Regions from separate parts of the Homo sapiens genome. Here all the other regions are linked to region 3. The links come from fine-mapping of genetic effects on gene expression. A gene starts in region 3. Each other region holds a variant in brackets. All regions are shown on one strand. Distances are between the middles of the regions. Region 1 has its middle 21 kb from the start of TMIGD1. Region 2 overlaps SLC6A4 (solute carrier family 6 member 4). Region 3 holds the start of CPD (carboxypeptidase D).

Region 1 (7,340 bases), 24 kb after region 3:
AATGCCAAATGCACCACAAACACATTGCTAAATCCTAATATTCATTTCTATCCAGCAGCTATACAAAGTTTAATTGAAATTCAGCCAATAAATCTACTGATGTCCAAGAGTTATTTTTGCAAGCTATTGAAAAGTATTGTAAATCTATGTCTGGAATATTAATAGATTAAAAGACTCTTTCCAAGTTTTTTGTAAAGCATGCAGGTATAAATGTTTCATAGGTAATGATAAAGTTATATCATTTTCAGGAATAAAAAAACAATGTCGCAATTGTGAATGGGAGCTCACTCATGATTTAGCTCTCTGTTTGTCTCTTATTGGTGTATAGGAATGCTTGTGATTTTTGCTGAAGTTGCTTATCAGCTTAAGGAGATTTTGAGCTGAGACAACAGGGTTTTCTAAATATACAATCATGTCGTCTGCAAACACAGACAATTTGACTTCCAGACATCCATTTTCAAAATGCTTTCTTAATTAAAAAAAGAGTTTCTTTGCAAGAGCAGTTACTTTTCTATTCTTTTTCTTTGCTTTTTGAGACAAACTCTCTCTGTCACCCAGGCTGGAGTGCAGTAGCCCAATCATACCTGGAGCTGTGTGTGATCATAGCTCGGCTGCTGCACTCAAACTGTAACCTCAAACTCCTGGGCTCAAGTGATCCTCCTGCCTCAGCTTCCTAAGTAGCTGGGACTACAGGCACATACCACCAGGCCCAGCTAATCTTTAATTTTTTTGTAGAGATGAGGTCTTACTATGTTGCCGGGGCTGGTCTGAAACTCCTGGACTCAAACGATCCTCCTGCCTTGGCCCCCCAAAACAGTGACTTTTCATTCACTGTTAAACACCATTTTTTTTCTTAAAGATATTAATTAAATGTGCTTATTATTGTAATTGTTTTATTATTAATTAGTTGATTGATTATTGTAATTTCTCCTGGTAGCCCAGTTTTTAAATTCATTTGTCATCACAGAAAAGGTCAGAAATTTTTGAACACTAGTCTTTTTGTAAGAGAAAAATTGTGCAGTTCACAGTTCATCTTTTTAAATTGACAATTCTTTTAAGTCCTTTACCCCTCAATGGCCCATAATCCTATTTGATACAATTGATTTTGATGGTCACTCTTCAACTCACTTTACAGTATTATAAGGACTCTGTGATTTATTAACACTGGGCTCTAACCAAGTGAGATAACCTGCCACCCAAGATTCTACTATCTAAAGTTTAAAGGTCTTGTGTTTTTTGTTTATTTTATTTATAAAAATAGCCTAATGACACCCTACAGCACACAAATTCCTCTTGGGAGATCTCTCTTATGATTTATGACACTTGACTCATGTTCAGACAAATGTGGCTTCCAGCATCAGTTGATATATAGGGCATCAGTAAAGTTTAATTCTTTTAAAGAAAAATAAATATAAATACTAATATTTTTTCTGCGGCTCAGGGCAGCCAGCTCCTAATGAATTCCAGGAATTAGCACAAACCTCACTTTGGAGACCACTGTTACAAAGCATCGCTCTGATCCTTTTACTCTTTTGCCAGCAAACCATCGTTATCTATCCATTGGCCATTTATCCATTGATAAAGCCCATGCTCTCTTTTTCTCAATAACATGGTTGCCCCCATCCCCCTGCTGCCTTCTCAGGGGCACAGGTGAGCCCTTTGTAACAGCTACACTTCAGGCTTGGAGACTGGCCCCACTTCTGAACTTTGAGGGACCAACATTGGCAGCTCACTGTTGAACCTGAGCCAGTCAATCTTTCTGCTGTGTGCAGTTTGATCTTAGCATCTTAATTCCCAGTTATGGGTTTCCTGCCTTGTACCCTCATTCTCCAGTGCTTGGGTTTGAGTACCAGACTGAATAATAATAATAATAATAATAATAATAATAATAATAATAGCAAAGACTAGAGAGCTTACTTGCCTACCGTTGTTCTGAATGCTTTACGTATATCAATTTATTGAATCCTCATAACTCTACAAAATAATACTATTAATATCCCCATTTTACAGAAGATGAAACTGAGACACAGAGGTTACATAACTTCACCAAAGTCACTAACGATAAGTGGCGGAGATGAGTGGGTTTGACTCTAGGCAGCCTAACTTTAGAGCCTGTGACACCTGGCTGCTCTGGCCTGCCTCATGTCAGCTTGCCACGGCTGATTATGGTAGGGCTGGAGAGGCATTTCTAAGCCTCTCAGCCAACAGTATTTCTAGCTTTTGGCCAAAAGCATGGCCAAGTTCAATATGATGCAGTGCCGTTTTGGGGTGGATCAGATACTCAAGGTAAAAAACACTGGCACTGGTTGGGAGCTGACATATGAAAGATGACTGGGAGCTGTAGGTGGTTCAAAAGTTAGAGTGAAAAAGAGACACTGGGACTGATTCCAAGGAAAAGGACCTGGTAGCCAAGAAGTAGACTGACAGAGAATATGAACACTAGCCACTAATTATTAATGCTTATTATGTCCCAAACACTGTCCTATTTGCCTTATGTTCATTGTCCCTTTCACTCTCACAATGACCCTGTGAAAGTGTGTCACCATTTTCTAGACAAAGAAACTGAAGCCAGGCATGGGCTCATGCCTGTAATCCCGGCACTTTGGGAGGCAGAGGCAGGTGGATCACTTGAGGTCAGGAGTGCGAGACCAGCCTGGCCAACATGGTGAAACCTTGTCTCTACTAAAAATACAAAAATTAGCTGGGCCTGGTGGCAGGTGCCTGTAATCCCAGCTACTCGGGAGGCTGAGGCAGGAGAATCACTTCAGCCCGGGAGGTAGAGGTTGCAGTGAGCCGAGATCACGCCACTGCACTCCAATCTGGGTGACACAGCAAGACTCTATCTAAAAAAAAAAAAGAAAGAAAAAGAAAAAGAAAAAAAAAGAAAAGAAAAAGAAAAAAGAAAGAAAGAAAAAGAAAAAGAAACTGAAGCTCAGAAAATCTAACTAATTTTCCTAAGCTCACATAATCAAATCAAGTGGTTCCGCTAGGATCTGAATTATGTTTGGTGTGGAAAGGTGCTACAGTCATCAGCCTCTATAGGATTTCCATTAGTTTGTCCAAAGCCACTGATATGGTTTGGCTGTGCCCCCCACCCAAATCTCAATTTGAATTGTATCTCCCAGAATTCACATGTGTTGGGGGAGGGGCCCAGTGGGAGGTAATTGAATCATGGGGGCCAGTCTTTCCCGTGATGTTCTTGAAATAGTGAATAAGTCTCACAAGATCTGATGGGTTTATCAGGGGTTTCTGCTTTTGCTTCCTTCTCATTTTCTCTTGCTGCCACCATGTAAGAAGTGCCTTTTGCCTCCCATCATAATTCTGCAGCCTCCCCAGCTATGTGGAACTGTAAGTCCAATTAAATCTCTTTTTCTTCCCAGTATCGAGTATGTCTTTATCAGCAGCATGAAAACATACTAGTATAGCCACCCTAAATAAATATGCAATTTAAGGAAAAGCAGTGTTGTAACTCATAAACACAACTTCAGCACAAGACCTCCTTCCAACTACACTGCTGCATACTTGAACTGCCCTAGGCTTATTACAAAGGTGGGCTCTTAATGATGGATCTCTATACCTCCTCATCACGAGAAGATCAAAGGGTAAGAAAGACAAGGGTGAAAATACATCTGCAGTCTTCTTCCTCCAACTCCAATTGAGAGCAAGAGACACAAAGAATCAGGAATTGGTTATGATGCCTAGTGGTGGCAGTGGTGGCAGAAACATCTGTTTCTAGGGGCAACTTGAGTTTCTGCAATGGGGCAGTATTCAGTGTTTTGAGGCCCCCATTCCAAGCTGTGGCATTTAGTGGTTCATCAGTAATGGTCTTCCTGGATGGGTTTATGGCAATGTTTAGCCTGTGGTCTTAGTTGCTACTGGGACCTTCTTGTTCCAATCCTTCACTGAACCTGTTTCTTTCTCCTCCTCTACAATATGTCATCAGTAAACTTCCTTCATGCTTAAATAAGCTAGAGTTAGTTTCTGTTACTTCCAACTAAAACCTCTGACTGGACCATGATTAAATTTTCATTTTCAATATTACTATCACAGTGCATCATATTTCCAATTTTTAAAAAAAGGACTAGTAGCTCAAAAGTAGTTCATTAAAATATTCATATAACCCACAGTTAATATAATGCTTAATAGTGAAAGATTGAAAGCTCCCTTAAAATCA[G/T]GAACAAACCAAGAATGTTCACTTTCCTTTTTTTTTTCCTTTGGTTTGTTTGTTTATTTGAGATGGAGTCTTGCTCTGTCACCCAGGCTGGAGTGCAGTGGTGCAATCTCAGCTCACTGCAACCACCACCTCCCAGGTTCAAGCGATTCTCCTGCCTCAGCCTCCTGAGTAGCTGGGACTATAGGCGCACGCCACCATGCTCGGCTAATTTTTGTATTTTTAGTAGAGACAGGGTTTTACCATGTTGCCCAGGATGGTCTCGATCTCCTGACCTTGTGATCCACCTGCCTTAGCCTCCCAAAGTGCTGGGGTTACAGGTGTGAGCCACCGTGCCTGGCCAGAATGTTCACTTTCTATTAAACATTGTGCTGGATATTCCAGTCAGGTCAATTAGATAAGAAAAAAAAAAAAGACATCCAGATAGGAAAGAGAGAAATAAGACTATCTCTATTTGTAGATGACATGATTTACTTTTACGTATAGAAAACCTTAAGGAATCCATTATAAACCTATTAAAACTAATAAACAAGTTCAGTAAGGTTGCCAGATACAAAAGCAACATGCAAAAATTAATTTTATTTATATACACTAGCAAACAACAATCCAAAGATGAAATTAAGAAAACAATTTCATTTATAATGGCATCAAAAAGAATAAATAAACTACTTAGGAATCAGTTTAACCAAAGAAGTGCAAGACTTGTACACTGAAAACTACAAAACACTATTGAAAGAAATTAAAGAAAACCTAGACATCCCATGTTCATGGATCAGAAGACTTGATATTGTAAGATGCCAATACTTCAAACTAATCTATATATTTAATGCAATTCCTATCAAAATACTAGCATCTTTTCTTGTGGAAGTTGATATACTAATCCTAATATCCATATGGAAATGCAAGAGACTCAGAAAAGCCAAAAACAACCTTGAAAAAGAAGAACAAAGTTGAAGGATTCATGTTTCCTGATTTCAAAACCTAGTATAAAGTTACAGTAATCAAGAGGGTGCTAATAGCATAGGGATAGACATATAGATCAATGGAATGGAATTGAACATTCAGAAATAAACCCTACTATTTTTGGTCAATTGATTTTCAGCAAGGGTGCCAAGACCATTCAATGGGGGAAAGAATAGCCTTTTTAACAAATGGTGCTGGGTCAACTGGATATCCACAAGCAAAAAAATGGATATGGACTCCTATCTCACACCACAGGCAAAAATTAACTTAAAATAAATTCTGGGTCAAGCATGGTGGCTCACACCTGTAATCCCAGCACTTTAGTGGGCCCAGGCAGGTGGATCACCGGAAGCCAGGAGTTCGCGACCAGCCTGGCCAACATAGTGAAACCCCGTCTCTACTAAAAATACAAAAATTAGCTGGGCATGATGGCAGGAGCCTGTAATCCCAGCTACTCAGGAGGATGAGGCAGGAGAATCACTTGAACCCAGGAGGCAGAGGTTGCAGTGAGCTGAGATCACACCATTGCACTCCAGCCTGGGCCACAGGAGTGAGACTTCGTCGCAAAAAATAAATAAATAAAATAAAATAAAATAAATAAATAAATCTGGTCCTAAATATAAGAGTTAAAACTATAAAATTCTTAGAAGAAAATATAACCTTGGATTAGGCAATGGTATTTTAGATATGACACCAGAAGTATACATGACAAAAGGAAAAATAACTGTTAAGCTTTTTTACAATTAAAAATTGTGCTACAGGCCAGACGTGGTGGCTCACGCCTGTAATCTCAGCACTTTGGGAGGCTGAGATGGGCGGATTGCCTAAGGTCAGGAGTTCAAGACCAGCCTGGCCAACATGGTGAAACCACGTCTCTACTAAAAAAAAAAAAAAAAAAACACACACACACACAAAAATTAGCCGGGCATGGTGGTGGGCACCTGTAATCCCAGCTATTCGGGAGGCTGAGGCAGGAGAATGGTTTGAGCCCGGGAGGTGGAGGTTGCAGTGAGCCAAGATTGTGCCACTGCACTTCAGCCTGAGTGACTGAGCAGGACTCTGTCTCAAAAAAAAAAAAAAAAAAAAAAATTGTGCTGTGAAGCCTCTATCAGGCTGGGCATGGTAGGTAGTTCATGCCTGTAATCCCAGCACTTTGGGAGGGCCAGGCTAGAGGATTCCTTGAGCCCAAGAGTTCCAGAACAGCCTGAGCAACATATGGGGACCCCCATCTCAACCAAAACAAATTAACAGTTAGCTGGGTATGGTGGTGCATGTCTGTGATCTCAGCTACTGGGGGTTGGGGGCTGGGTGGTGCTGTCTGAGGTGGGAGGGTCATTTGAACCCAGGAGGTCACGGCTGCAGTGAGTCATAATCACACCACTACACTCCAGCCTGGGTGACAGAGCATGACCTGTTTCAAAGGACACTATCATGAAAGTGAAAAGAAAAGACAACCCACAAAATGAGAGAAAACATTTGCAAATCATATATCTATTAAGGGATTTGTATTTAAAATATATAAAGAGTCTTACAACTCAACAATTAAAAAAAAAACTTAAAATGGTCAAAAGATTTGAATGGACATTTTTCCAAAGAAGGTATACAAGTGGCCAAGCAGCACATGAAAAGATGTTCAATGTTATTACATATTAGGGAAATGTAAATGAAAACCTCAACGAGATTGCTAAAGGGTATGACGTTTCTCTTGTGGATGATGAAAATGTTCTAAAATTGATTGCAATGATGTTGCACAACTGTGAATGTAGTAAAAACCATTTAATTGTATACTTTAAATGGGTAAATTATATCTCAGTATGTAGGTAAATTATATCTCAATAAAGCTGTACCAAAAAAAAAAAAAAAAAAAAACCCTCACAGTGAGATGACACTTTATACTTACAAGGATGGCTAAAATAGAAAAGAGACAATAACAAGTGTTGATGAAAATGTGGACAAATTGTAACCCTTGTACATTGCTGGTGGAATTGTTAATGGTACAGTCACTATGGAAAACAAGTTAGGTGTTCTTCAAAATGTTAAACATAGAGTTACTATATGACCCAGCAATTGCACTCATAGATATATAGCCAAGAGAAATGAAAACACATGTCCACAAAAAAACTTGTACATGAATGTTCATAGTAGCATTATTCAAAATAGCCAAAACTGGAAGCAATACAAACATCCAGGATGCACAAATTAACAA
Region 2 (7,340 bases), 150 kb after region 3:
AAGATGTCTGGACAGCCAGAGCAAAAATTATACAGTCACTTTTGGTTGTTGTTGAGAAGGTAACTCAGACCTTAGTTATTCCCAGTAACATATCAGCTCCTCGTGGTCCTCAGCTCTAAATGAGGGGCTGTGGAGAGGACTGCCTAACACGATGTCCGAGTCCCCTCCAACTCACTCTGCAACCATGACCCTAACCTCTCCACTTTAAGAAAACATGAGTTGAAATGATGGTGCAAAAATGCCGGAGGGCCGGTACTCTCTACCCAGATATCACCTTCAAATCAGGGTCTCCTGGGGATCCCCTCAGGTTTCACTCTAAGGCAGAGGCTTTGCACACTCTGACACATGTAAGTAAGTTAACCCCTGCACCTTAACCACAGCCAACCAACAGGGGCCCAATAACCCGACTCCCCAGCTGCCCAAATGCCCTTTGCAAGATGCCCAGGGTGTGGTGCGGTAGAAATAGCCCCCAGGCAGCACAAATTTGGGCTGCACCGATTTTCCTGTCCAGTCCCTGGGCTATTAACAGCCACCTCCACTCCCTGATGTTTGCGGTGTTCCATGGAACATACGTGGGTGTGGAGCGAAACATCTCATAAAAGCGCCTGTTTCTCCACACTTGGGACAAGTGAGGCAGACTCCCTTGCTCTTACAGGGAATCTGTTTCTGGGCTTAACCAGGCAAAATGACATTCCAAGGGAAGAAAACTCCCATCTTTCTAGGAGGGACCCAGGGGAAAACAGATGAAACTAGCCTTTCACAGAAACCTGGCATCAATGATCTTCCCTGAGCAGAAAGGCAAATTGCTCTTCCAGGTGGGCACGGGCTCCACCATTGGCCTGCACAGCCCCGTACTTCCAGGTGGAGCTCACGGTGCTGACTTTGGTTCACATTCAGAAATGTTGCCCTGTGAGAAACGTCTCTGCAGGGGCTGCTCCCTTCAGCCTGACTTTTGTTTGCTCTGGGTGACTGGGAAGACGAATGCTCATTTACTGAATGTCAACAACGCGCTTTTAAATGGGAGCAAGTGTTTTCCCAGCCCTGTGTCTAATGAGGTGACAAAATGAGTAGCGATAAAGTGGATGTGAGGCAGTCTGACTGCCTTATTATTATTTCCATCTTTCCTTTGGCCCCTCTGGAACCTGGCAGCAGCTCCCCAGCTTCCATCCCAACCCTGAACCAAGGGGATTTGTTAATGGGATTTAAGCCACAGGCTCTTTAGCACCCAGGACTGGATGGACCTCCATTAATCCCAGAAGCCCCTGGGCTGCAAAAGGAGAGACGCAACCCAGTGATGTGGAGACAGAGAGGCAATGTCCCAGGTCTTCAGGTACTGACGAGTGACAGACAGCAAGGGGAGGGTCTCCTGGGATGCTGATGTCCAGTTCTTCAGGTCATTCTTTGAGGTAGGGAGGGAAGAGGTGACAGGAGGGGTTATGATGAGACCAGGTGGTGATCTGGGCGAGCACTTCTCAGCAAAGCTGGGGACACAGCGAACCCATTGTGTGCTTTGGGAGAGCCCAGAGCCCCAGACTGGGTGGGCAGCTAGCAGGAGGGGGCAAGTACGTGGGCCTTTGCCGTCTTGGGTTTTGGTGTGACCTTTCTGTGTGTATACAGGAAAAAAGAGCATTTCATTTCCTTTGTTACTGAACTGTTGAATAAAATAAGCTGATTTGTCTTCTCTAAGGGAACTTTTTCCTCTAAGGGGCCAAGAATTAGTGAGTGGGAGACCTGGAAGGACCAGGGAGGGGTTCTGCTCCCCGTAGCTCTGTGCATGGCTGGCTCTAGCTCACCCACGGCTCTTGAGGACAAAGCCAGGCCTAGAACTTGAGTCTCTTCTACTTTCGCTCTCTTCTCTTCCCTCCGTAATGATGGGCATGTCTTCTTTAAAAGGCGAACCAAATTAGCTGGCCCTTTCTCTTGTTTCAGAGTTGGGGAGCTGGGCCGAAGGAACAGGGAGGGAAGAGCCTGGAGGGGAGAGGGGAGGTAAGCTGTTCTGGTCAGCAGGGAGCTTTGGCTGACTGGAAGTTTCCCAGCACTGGCTGAGGGCTAGAATTATTTTTTCTTTTGAAAATTTTCAACTGAAAAATCAGAGATATGGTCCATTTTCACCAGTTAACATTTTGCCAATTTGTGTACAAAGTCACTCTAATTATGCATATATCTAATTTTTGCATATGCAGTATATATATGATTTGATATATTATGTGTAATATATAAGATCATTAATATAATTATGCCATTTATGTATCTGTATGTATACATACAGATATATATACACACTATATATACACATATGTACATACAGATACATACAGATATATATATACATATGTACATACAGATACATACAGTGTATATATGTGTCTGTATACACTATATGTATATATAAACTATATGTATCTGTATGTATACCTACAGATATATATAGTGTGTATATATATATCTGTAGGTATACATACAGGTATATATATACTATATATATAGGTTCAACTAATATATATAGTTGAACCTTTGAGAGTTTGCAGACTTCCAGATACTTCTTCCTTAAATACTTCAACACAGATTTCCAACAAACAAGGACCTTCTTGTACGTAACCACAGCGCCATTTTCATGCTGGGGAAACTGGAGATAGATACAATACTATTATCGCACATACAGCTCATATTCCCATTTCCCCCGCTGTCTCAATGATGTCCTTTTTAGCATACAGTGTTACTCTGTGAGACTGTAAACTAGGGGTCAGAAAGTTTTTCTTGCTCTCATCTCAGTGCATATCTGAGAACTAGACTGGTGCAATGATGTGTAAGGATGAACTGATTTTTCATGAGTGTCTCCAACTGTGTGACTCACACTAAAGCACATCTCAGAAATTGTTGACCTAAGAGTATAGGCACCTTTGAGCAGCAACAGCCAAACTCCAAACACCTTGTGGCTGAAGAGGTGGTTGCACGTGTCCTCCGCGCCCCCTCTCCACCTGGATGCACCCGTCTCCTCCAGCAGCCTCACCTCACCTGACCTCACCTCTCCTTCTCCCCTCCATGCCCCACCCAGAGAAATGGGCCAGTTTCCCCTCTCTTTTCTCTTCTCCACTCCCATTTTATTTTGTAGTTCCACTTCAAACCCCCTTTTCCCCACTTCCCTCTTCCGCCTTGCTCAGCAGCCACAGGTGAATCCACCCTTATTTCATAGCACCCTCTCCCTGGGGTTGTTTTTTCCTCTCTTCTCTCTGTTTTGGGTCCCTTTGTGGACCCAATCATGTCTGTTTTACACAAAGGTAATCTTAGTAACATACCTGTATAAAGGAAAAGAAAAGCTGTGTGTGGACATGTTCCCATGTGTTCTATCTCGATTTTTACTTATTGCATAAATTGTATTTATCACAACAGTAAAGGAGTGTTTGGAAGGTGAAGTGACACTCCTAATCCTGATTAATCTAACACATCATCTGTTTTGAGTTTCTCAAGTCTCTTTCCCAGCCTCGTCCACATTTAAATATACTATGGTAACAGAGTAAAAGCAGTTTTGTTTTCTGCAAAAAGTTGTAAGTTGTGAAATTATGTGTCACAAGCAATTCATGTCACCAACTTCTTCTTCTTCCTCTTCCTCTTCCTCCTCCTCCTCCTCCTCCTCCTCCTCTTCCTCTTCCTCTTCCTCTTCCTCCTCTTCTTCTTCTTCTTCTTCTTCTTCTTCTTCTTCTTCTTCTTCTTCTTCTTTCTTCTTTTTCTTCTTCTTCTTTTTTGAGATGGAGTTTCGCTCCTGTTGTCCAGGCTGGAGTGCAATGGCCCGATCTCAGCTCACCACAACCTCTGCCTCCTGGGTTCAAGCTATTCTCCTGCCTCAGCCTCTAAAAGGCTGGTATTACAGGCATGC[G/A]CCACCATGCCTGGCTAATTTTTGTATTTTTAGTAGAGACAGGGTTTCTCCATGTTGATCAGGCTGGTCTCGAACTCTGACCTCAGGTGATCCGCCCACCTTGGCCTCCCAAAGTGCTGGGATTACAGGCATGTGACACTGCGCCCAGCCCATGTCATCAACTTCTAAAGAACTTGGACCAGGCGCAGTGGCTCATGCTGTAATCTCAGCACTTTGGGAGGCTGAGGCAGGAGGATCGCTGGAGTCCAGGAGTTCAAGACCAGCCTGGGCAACATAGCGAGATCTCATCTCTACTGTGTATTTTAAAATTGAACAACAAACAAAACTAAAGACCTCAAAAGTGCCTAAAAGACACCTCCGTGGAATCTGTACAAGGATCTCCCTGCTCCTTGTTCTTCTTTCCTTAAATTTAGTTTTCCTTAAGAACCAAAAAGAAGGTTAAAATAAAGAAAGAACTTCGAATCAGTCTCATTGTCAGCCCCCTCCCCACCCCTAAGCCGTCGTGTAGCACTTAACAACGCTGTGTTCTACAGCTTTCGTTTCAGATGTTTTAGTTTATCACATTTATTTCTGTGGGTTAGGAAATATATTCTAAGTTCCAAACCACCAGCTCACAGATGAACATTTGGAGCCCAGACCGCTGATGGGTGTGCCTGCCAGTACTTGTTTCAAAGTCTGAAAGCCCATCCCGGGCTCTTTAATCCTGGGCATGTCAGTCTCTTCCTGTCCATAGTCCATGAAAATGACTGTTAAGGCAGCCCTCCTCCTCTGCCCACAAGATGCACAGCCAATCTTCCCGATGGGTGAGGCAGGGAGGGACAGGGCCCCTTAGAATAGAACCCTGATCCCATTTGACTTAACTCCAGGGAGGAGAGAAAGAGCAGCACCTCACATGGAGCTCAGATCTGTTGGCACCCTCGCCCAGTCAGGAAACCCAAAACAAGCCCTCCATGCTGAGAGCTGTACAGGGCGTGCTCCAGTCTGCAAGTATTTGGACTCAGGGACGTGTAGCCATAGCCCCTGCTTCCAGGGGCACACGAAGCAAATGTATATAAAAGGATAACTAATGATGCCTGGTAATCAATGGCGAGTGACAAATGAGAATTGAGTAGAAAGAGTGTATCTTGGGCTGGAGTGCTGAGAGGAGGTGGATAGAAGCTTATGCCAGGCCTTGGAGGGTGCAGGATAATTAGAGGAAGGGAAGCTACAGGTGGGGACGCACACGGCACTGTTGGTGCCTACTGGCCCCTGAATAACCTGCGGTATTTGTTAAAAACTGCAGATCCCTGAGTGCCCACGTGGATCTCTTGAATTAGAATCTCTGGGAGAGCAGCCCAGGAGTCTGTTTCCCAGGTGACCCCAAGCACTGATTGAGAGCAGCAAGCATGACCCAGTGAGGCCCGTGCTGGGAGCCACAGATCACTTAAGTCCCAAGTCTTGTGGGCCTCAGTTTCCCTGCTAGGGTATGAAGTAGAAAGGCACAATGGGTTGCGGATGTATGGTGGTGATAGTGACATCAACTCACTGTCATTTATTGATGCTTCCCTGTGCTAGACACTGAGATAAGCATGTGTCATACTTTAATTCCCACGACAGCCTTTAGGAAGTAGCGGTTTTAACAGTCTGCTTTTACACAGGAGGAAATGGAAGCTAAGAGAGGTTAAGTGACCTACTCAAAGTCACACAGCCATTAAGTGGTGGACCAGGGATTCCAGTGCAGACCTGAAACAGAAAGGAGAGCTATGGGTTGTGAACAGAGGAACTAATGAAAGATGACTCTGGAAGGAAGTTAGTCTGGGCTTGGCTGTTTATATTCACTGGAGGAGGGCTGTTCACATCTGCTATGCTAAATTCATTTCTTTCTAGTAAAGTCAAAATAAATAATCCAGTATCCTTTTGGCCAGCCTCTCAGGGGGACCTTGACCCCATCACAAGGGGCATATCCTCTAGATTTTATACTCTGTGTAGAGAGAAGCCCAGGGCTATCCTCTCCCAGGCAGGGAAAGTTCTGGACAGAAATTCTTTTTCTTTCTCATGATAACTGGCCCAAATGGCCCTGAGGATTTTATCCTATTTAATTCCTCTCCAAAAAATTAAACCAGGCTGGGTGCAGTGGATCATGCCTGTAATCCCAGCACTTTGGGAGGCCAAGGCGGGAGGATTGCTCATAGGCCAGGAGTTCAAGACCAACCTGGGCAACATGGTGAAACCCCATCTCTGAAAAAAATACAAAAAATTAGCTGGGTGTGGTGGCACACACCTGTAATCTCAGCTACTCGGGAGCCTGAGGTGGGAGGATTCCTTGAGCCCGGGAGGTTGAGGCTGCAGAGAGCCATGATCATGCCACTGCACTCCAGCCTGGATGACAGTGCAAGACTCTGTCTCTTAAAAAAACAACACACACACACACACAAACACACACACAAAGGAACAGAAAAAACACTAAACTGACTCTGTCATATGAGGAATCCTTTGGATAAGGAGATGGCTGTGATAGTGGAGTTCATTTCTACCCTTTTTGTCCAAAAAAAAAACAAGCAGATTTTCTCTATTCTCTTCATTTCTATCATGAAATCTCTTCAATTCATTGGAAAGGCAAGGCAGGAGTCCCTATGGCTTCCGACCTGTGCCCCCATGACCCTGCACACTTCGGGAACACAGCAGTGCCTTCAGCAGATGCAAACGTGAGCCCCCATTTTACACTGCAGAGCCTGCAAGGAAGGATCAGCCAACAGCCAAGGTCCTGTGAGAGAAACTGTGCAATAGCAGCAAAGGAAGACTTAAAGCCTGGGGGCAACTGTGGTGCAAAACATGTGAGCTATCTAAACACGCCGCGGCGAGCCAGCGGCAGCCTCTGTTCACCACGGGATGTGTGGCAGCACCAGCCTCTCCAGAAGCATCGTGTTTTTCCTAGCAGTTGGTTTTCTTTTTCAGATTTTAGGCTTGGCCTGTGGACTCCATGCAGGCAGGACTGTGCCTGCCTTGTTTCTTTTTTCTTTCTTTTTCTTTTTTTTTTGAGACAGAGTCTCACTCTATCGCCCAGGCTGGAGCGCAGTTTGGCTGACTGTAACCTCTGCCTCCCAGGTTCAGGCGATTCTCATGCATCAGTCTTCTGAGTAGCTGGGATTACAGACATGCACCACCACGCCCGGCTCATTTTTTGTATTTTTATTTTTATTTATTTATTTGAGACAGAGTTTCACTCTTGTCACTCAGGCTGAAGTGTAGTGGCTCAATCTCAGCTCACTGCAACCTCCGCTTCCTGGGTTCAGGCAATTCTCCTGCCTCAGCCTCACAAGTAGCTGAGATTACAGGCACCCGCCACCACACCCAGCTACTTTTTGTATTTTTAGTAGAGACAGGATTTCACCATGCTGGCCACGCTGGTCTCAAACTCCTGACCTCAGGTGATCCGCCCGCCTTGGCTTCCCAAAGTGCTGGGATTACAGGCGTGAGCCAGCTGGCC
Region 3 (7,340 bases):
CCTTACTGTAATTACACAGTTTTGAAAGTACCAGTGTCATTCTTACAATGAAGATTTCAAGAGAAAGTGACTACAATGGCTGTAAGATTATGCTTTGAGTTTTTGTCAAATCAACTTTGCAAATCAACTCCAATCTTATTTGACAGGTACTTTATGGTTTCCATTCAAATCAATTCTCTGAAATGTTTCTCATACTTGACTTCAGTATCACATATCATTCCTTGCATAAGATTTAAAGTAGCTGGTAAATATATTAGAGATATTACAAATGAGTTTATAAATATTAAACAGTTAATCTCTAAATTAACTCTATTACGCTATCCAGGTAACCCTGTAGATAACTTGAAAAAAATTAAGATAACTTGATATCTGACAAACTAAATTTCAAAGATTCAGACAATCATAGATATGTATACATAAGCCCCCAAAAAAATCATCTGCACCCACTCTCAACACTGTAATAATGCTTTTCACAAACACATTCAAATATCATTTATATGCTAATTACCTATGAAAATTTAAGCAGGTATATTCACTTAAAGAAGCATAGCGGTCAACTATAAAAAAATAGGAGTCAACTATAAAATCTTCATTTGAATGATAAAGTTAATTTTTTTATATATTTTCTTAAGTATTTGTCTCAACATCCATTGGATGAAGTATAAAGTGAAACAAAGAAAATAAACTTCATTTTCCCAAGCTGGAGGAAATTAAGCCTTAAAATTTTACATATTCGAAATAACAACAAAAATCTAATTCGAATATAGCTGGGTGAATAGGATATCAAGAAATTACTCAAATGGTTTACCTCACAAAATACACTGAAAAAGGTAGTTTTCCCATACAGACTAATGTTTGAGTATTTAAAAATATCCCATCCATAAAGTTGACACTATATTTAGGCATCAATATCAAATTGTGTGTGTGCTTGTGTTTTTAATTTTATTCACATATCAGTGTCCTTTGTTATTGGTTAATAGCACAGAGTACGCATTTTGAGTGAATTCTTGAAGACTGAGTTAGGATGGATGTACTCTTTACCATATATGATCACCTACTTTCCCTTTTGATTAATGAGAGTTACATATTTGAAGAACAGATATGATTAGGGTAGTCCACAGCCACAGACCAAAATGACTCTGTATAGCCTCAAGGCGACTTGCACCAAGAAAAAGCTTATTTTCATATTTGGTCACAGCACAACTAATACTGAAAAGAAAAATCCAGGCACAGAATTTACATCCCTGCAAGGATCACAGCATTTTAAAGGTGCAAGGACAGAGCATTTTAAACATTTAAGCAATGCAAACGGTGCATTTGTTGTATCATCTCCAAAAAGCCCTGGCCATCACAGCTCTGTCAATAAGTGTATGTCAAAGTCATATTTCTTACGCAGATGTTCAGAGGTGATGACACGATCGTATTTAAAAGAAAAAAAAATCCTCCCAGAAAGTCTATGTGAAATTATATATCTACAAGAGAGCTTATCAAGAGGAGTAAAGTAAAAGATAGAAGACGAAAAGACTCAGGAACTGTCCTAACACTCAAGAATTTTCTAGATCTTCTATATATGACTGAAATCTTGTAGAAGAAATGATTCCAAGTCCCGCAGGGAAACTTCTTTATCTTAGCAGTCCCTCAGAAATCTTCTTTTAATCCAGATGGAATGATCAGTTATTGCTTCAAAAGCCTTATGAAGATACAAAAATGGGGAAAAGCTGATGCTAGAAAAGGGGAAGAGATGCCTGCTCACTTCAGACACTATGCCATCTGGAGTGAGTTCCCTCTTATTTTATTCCTCTCCTTTTTGCTGAAAATCCTGCCCATCTCTGGAGATAGCTCAAGCTCTACCTCTTCCACAGAGATGGTCCGTGTTATTGCAGCCCACACACATCTTGCCAGTGGGAACAATTCCTGTAAAGTTTAACTGGGTACACCAACATACCTCATAAATATTTATAACATTCTCTTGTTTTATACTAATTTCTTGAGGTCCTCCTTCTTCTACTTTGTAATTTTTTAAACCTCATGCAATGCTTAATAACACTTAAAGTGTGTATTAGAAGTGTGACCATTAGCCATTCTGCCCAGGCTAATAAGGTGCACAAATGACATCACAAACCCTTCAGAGTCTAAAATGAAGCGGCTCACAGATCTGTGCAAGTTCTCCAGCTAAGTCCATATCTTCTTAAGCTGAGTCAGAGGTAAAAATTGGAGAAAAATCAGCTTCTGTCAAATAGGCAAGGGGAAGATCCTGGGAATATCATCTGCCATTTTTGGGCTCCAGTGTCCCTCCGTGGCTAAGAGGACTATCGGGAATCAGATTGCCTAATTCTAAGTCCCAGCCACACTCCTATGTAAATCAGTTAACCAATCTGACCCTCAATTTCCCCGTATGCAAAACTGATGGTGTCTATGACATCAGGTTGTGGCCAAAATAAAGTGAGATACTGCAGTCACAGAAAAAATTAGCACAGCGCCTATAACATTAGGCACTTTTGATATAAGATAACAACATTGACAGCTTATCTATAAAATGTGTGAGCTGACCTAGGTTATCCTTAAGATCTCTTCTCGCTCATATTCTATGCCCCTGTAAGAATAGGGACCAGAAATGTCAGAAAGGAGTGTCCCCTCCAGCCATCCCTTGAACAAATGACAGCCTCTAGGAGGCAATTCTTTGATGATTAGCAGGACGGGAGGCTACGCGGCCTGGGCCCTGTCCCCGTTACAGGGTGTCTCCCTTCACCTTCACCACCGCCACCCCTTATGCCAGCATTGTCTGAGCGCCTACTGGGTGCCGGAACCAGCCTCGGCCCTTGGAGGCTCACACGGACGGGGAGGGGGCAGGCAACACTCACTTGTTCCTGCGGATCCACTCGATGAGGGCGCGCACCTCGGGCACCTCGTCCAGGGCGGGGGGTTCGCCGGTGCTAAACTGGTCGGGAAAGCTTCGGTTGAGGTCGCGGCCGCGACTATTGTCGCGGCCGCTGGCCCCGGACGGGCCGCCGTCGCCGAAGCCACAGTCGCCCTCGCGGGCACGCTCGAAGCCATCGGGGTTGAGGCTGGGCAGCAGGTACACGTCGGTGGTGTTGAGCAGGCGGACCAGGCGCGGGTCCCCGCGGCGGTAGCCGGCCGCCAGCTCGCGGGCCAAGTAGATCAACACCTGGCGCGACACGGTCTCGTCGCCATGCATGTTGCCCACCAGCTTCACCTGGGGCCGGCCGGGCAGCAGCGGCCCCGCAGCGTCGGGCCCGGCAGCGTCAGGCCCCGCGTCGCCCTCAGGGATTAGCGACCCCAGGCCGGCGGTGAGGCGAAGCACCCACAGCGGCCGGCCTTCCACCGAGCGGCCGATGCTAAAGAGGCGGGCCAGGCCGGGGAGGCCCGCGGCCGCCGCCTCCCTCAGCGCCGACTCCAACTCCTCTTCGTGGTAGTAGCGGTCGAACTGGCCCTCGGCCGCCTCGGCGCCCGCGCTCGTAGTTGTGGTAGTCGCCTCCGCCTTCTTGATGTGAGCCGCCCGGGCCGAGCTCCCCAGCAGCAGCAGGCACATGAGCAACAGGAGCCGCCCTAGCCGCCAAGGCGGCCGCTCGTCCCGGCCGCTCGCCATCTTCCAGCAGCGCCGCTAACCCCGGCTCCGCTCCCGCGGCTCAGCGCTCCGGGCGGCGGGGGCCCGCCGGATCCCCTCCTCGCCTAGCAACCCCATCCCGCCCTCTGGCCGCAGCCAATCGCGGACGGGCCTGGTGGAGCGTCACCACCAGGGGGCGGGGCTTCCCTTAAAGCAGCCGATTCCCTCTGGGCGGGCCTGCCCTCCTCCCGTCCGGGACGAGTTTGGTCACTCTCTTCCTTCGCCAAGGTTCTTCTTCTCTTCTCCTCCTCCTTGTTTCGTCTTCTGCGTGTGCTCCGCTTCTCGCTTAGTCTCTTCTTTATGGCTTCTCCCCTAAATTATCACCCATTTTTCTCTGAGAACTCCTGCTAGTTCTCTTCCCATCTTTGTTGCTGCCTTTCTCAGCTGCGCTTTAATGCTTAGAACCGAGAATGGAAAGAATCAAAAGGTTCGAAAGAATCATAAGACTAGAAAAAATCAATAGGTTCGAAAGAATCTTCGTTCGGACACTCAAAGCCTTAGCCCAGTCTCCTAGGCGCCTTGTCTCCGCATCCACCCCGCCTCCGCTGGAGCCCCGCTGTCCGCGTGCGGTTGCACGGGACGCCTCGTGGGGAGGAAGGCTCGCACCTCACTAGGCGGTGCATTCATTTTTAGAGTTGCTTTCTGGAAAGGTGTCTCTTTTATGCCTAGCGGAAATGTGCTACGTAGTAGGCTCCCTTTGTGTTAATGTTGTCTATTTCTTAGGCGTCACCCCACGTTGTTTTACTGCAAATAGGTCCCTGTGTGTGCTGGCCTCGACCCTCATTAGGCAGATTTCATTTCACAGCTCACCGGCCCACTTCTCCCACCTCATCGGAGCAAGTTGTATATTTAACTGTGCCCTGGAATGACATATTTTAAAACAGCAGGTTTGACATTTCTGGAAACACTTGCTTGGCATTCCTGAACTCCTCAGTGTCAGCCAAAGATGGCAATTACAGCGTTTCATCAAGTCTAGAGAAGAGGTCTTTTAAATCACCTTTTATAGGCTTTAGTTTCTTTAGCTTGAAGAAACCCAAAACTATCCCTTAATCGAATGCGAAATTCTACCCATCTAACAACATAATCGCAATAACCGGCATTACCTTCTTTCAGAGCCAGCTATTTCAGGGCCCCTTCCCTGAACTATGACTGAACCCTACTTTAATAGAGTTCATTCATTCGTCAAGTATTTATTGAGCAACTTTTATGTCAAAGCTAGATGCTGGGAAACAATTCATTCTTCTGCCCAGTCAAGAGATTCAGTGTAGTTTGTGATAAATGCTACAACAGAGGGGGTACAGGTGAGGGAAATATCTGAACTTGAGGAGGAGGAAAGGAGGAGAGAAACCATGGAGGATGGGAAGGATCCCAGGCAGGAGGAGAAGCAAGCAAAGAAAGCCGCAGGATTTGAGAACAAATGCCTTGTGTTCTGGGAATTGCATGCAGGGTCAGGATTACTGGTGTGAAGGGGCTCACAGGCCAGTCTTCAGGGAGCACATTTGATCTGGAAGGCCATGGAGAACCACAGACGGGTTTTAAGCTAGTTTAGAAAAATTCCTCTGACAGTAACACGGAAAATTGAATGGGAGGCCTAAGACTTGAGGCTGAGAGACCTGGAAGGAAGCTGCAATCCAGGAAGACATGATGAGACTCTGAATGAGGGCAGTGCCAGTGGAGGTGGAAAGAAGGAAATGGATCTGAAAGACCTTCGGAAAGGAAAGTGGACAGGATCTGGAGACAAAGAGGATTGTAGGCTGACTTCAAGTTACAGCCTAAGCAACTTGCAGGTATTCACTGAGGTACAGGCCAGGAGAAAGCACAGGTTTAGGTGAAGATGATTAATTTAGTATTCTGCCATCAGAGCGAGCACCGTCACTCCGGTCCTGTGAATGGCTCTTCTCCATGCCCCATTTGATCTAGTCTACATTATGCACAGCAGCTGCAACTCATCAGAAACAAAGCCACAACTCTGTACAGAGAGACCGCCCACCACCTCCCGGGAGTGCTCAACTATTACACCATGCACTTTTACAGTAATCCAAGTCAAAGAAGCCCCAGAGGACATGTTAACTTCTAATCAAATATTTCCTTTTCTACCACGTTCACTCTCCTTTGAAACCTCTTCCAGCCCCTTCACTCCTGCAGCCTCGCCTAGAGAGGCAGCCTGAAATGTAAATAAACAAGCATGAGGGTGGTGAAATAATATGGGAATGTAACTTGAGCCGGTGTCCTCTCAGAAATCCCCAGGCCTTCCGTGGGCCTCTTTCAGGTCTGCAGCCTTCTTCCTTAGCAGGTACACAGTTGCTTATGGTTATAAGTGAAACCCAAAGCTCTGGACCTCAGTCACTTTTGTGTTTACCTACAGGTTTGTGTTTACCTACAGCTGAATACCTCCAATTGTGTCTGAGAAGTCTTGAACCTTATGACAGGTGTTTCTTTCCTCTTTCCCCAAGGAAAAGGTGTGGCCTTACAAATGGAAGGGACTTGGGAAAGGCTTGAAGGTAAAAAGGCTTCCTGTTCACAGAAGCAGAGTGGCAATGACTTGGATTTTTTTTTTTAATTTTTGTATTTGATACATGATAATTGTACATATTTATGGGATACATTTGATATTTTGATACATGCATACAATATATTATGATCAAACCAGGACATTCTGGATAGCCATCACCTCATTTAGCTCAAAGAGATTTGAAATGTTTCTAGCACCAAGAAATGACAAAGAATTGACGTGGATTTTTTAAAAACAGGGCAAAAGCTTTTAGATGACCAGCCTGATTCAAGAACCATTTTCTTCACAAGATTCGTAGGTAATTAAAGCATAGCATAGACCGGGAACTTGTAAGTGTCTCATTGTCCAGCACAAACACCTGCAGATTTACAAATTCAATTTGACAAATGTTTGTGGAGCACCCAATCTGGCGAAAGGTCTGTTGTGCCAGGTACAGGAGGATTGGAAAATGAATGAAGGGGATCTCTCCCCTCCCAGAGGACAGAATCTAGGAAGGGACACAGAACATAGACACAACACAGGACTGGATGTGTCTGCTGGACAAGAGTTACATAACAGGCACTGTGCAAAACCCTTTACATTGGTTGACTCATTTCATCTTCACAACAGTCCTATGAGGCTGGTGCTATTATCATTCCCATTTCAAAGATAAAGAGAGGAGACATGAGGTCACACAGCTGGCAAGCCACAGATCCAAGACTCAAACCTGGGGAGTGTGACTTCAGAGTCTGTGTGCTTAAATTCTGTAATAAAACTGTTTCTATATAGTAAGCTTAAAAAAACAAAAAACAAAAACCTGTTTTTGGAACACACAAAAGCCATTATAATGAAGAGTCACCTCCCTCGGTGGCTCAAGCCTGTAATCCCAGCACTTTGGGAGGCCGAGGCGGGCAGGTCACCTGAGGTCAGGAGTTCAAGACCAGCCCGGTCAACATGGTGAAACCCCGTCTCTACTAAAAATACAAAATAAATAAATAAAAGAAATTAAAAATAAAAATAATGAAGAGTCAGAGAAAACGTCACCAATACTGCTTGATCATGCTCTTCAACAGCAGAACCAAGTTCAAATCCTGGATCAGTCCCTTTTCAGCCATTGTAACCAGGGCAAGTTACTTCATTTCTCTGAAAATTAAAAGAAATAATACATACATAACATTTAATATAATACTTGGCATATAACAAGCGTTCAGAAATCACCGTTAT

What was found.
Region 1: its variant is fine-mapped to the expression of CPD in whole blood (INTERVAL, PIP above 0.99).
Region 2: its variant is fine-mapped to the expression of CPD in whole blood (TOPMed, PIP above 0.99).

The regions. Positions count from the first base shown.
Region 1 is chr17:30,351,568-30,358,907 of GRCh38, reverse strand. No RefSeq gene overlaps it. Among named protein-coding and RNA genes, the nearest start is that of TMIGD1, 21 kb to the right of the region's middle. The variant G/T (reference allele first, on the strand shown) is at 4,175.
Region 2 is chr17:30,226,423-30,233,762 of GRCh38, reverse strand. The region is part of intron 1 of SLC6A4 (solute carrier family 6 member 4); the gene reads left to right. Among named protein-coding and RNA genes, the nearest start is that of SLC6A4, 5.6 kb to the left of the region's middle. The variant G/A (reference allele first, on the strand shown) is at 3,875.
Region 3 is chr17:30,375,248-30,382,587 of GRCh38, reverse strand. CPD (carboxypeptidase D) reads right to left here and starts at 3,661. Exons shown (of 21, transcript NM_001304.5): 1 at 2,862-3,661. The coding sequence starts at 3,607. RefSeq lists silencers at 3,186-3,315, 3,616-3,855 and enhancers at 2,833-3,760, 3,906-4,075, 5,346-5,395, 5,646-5,935.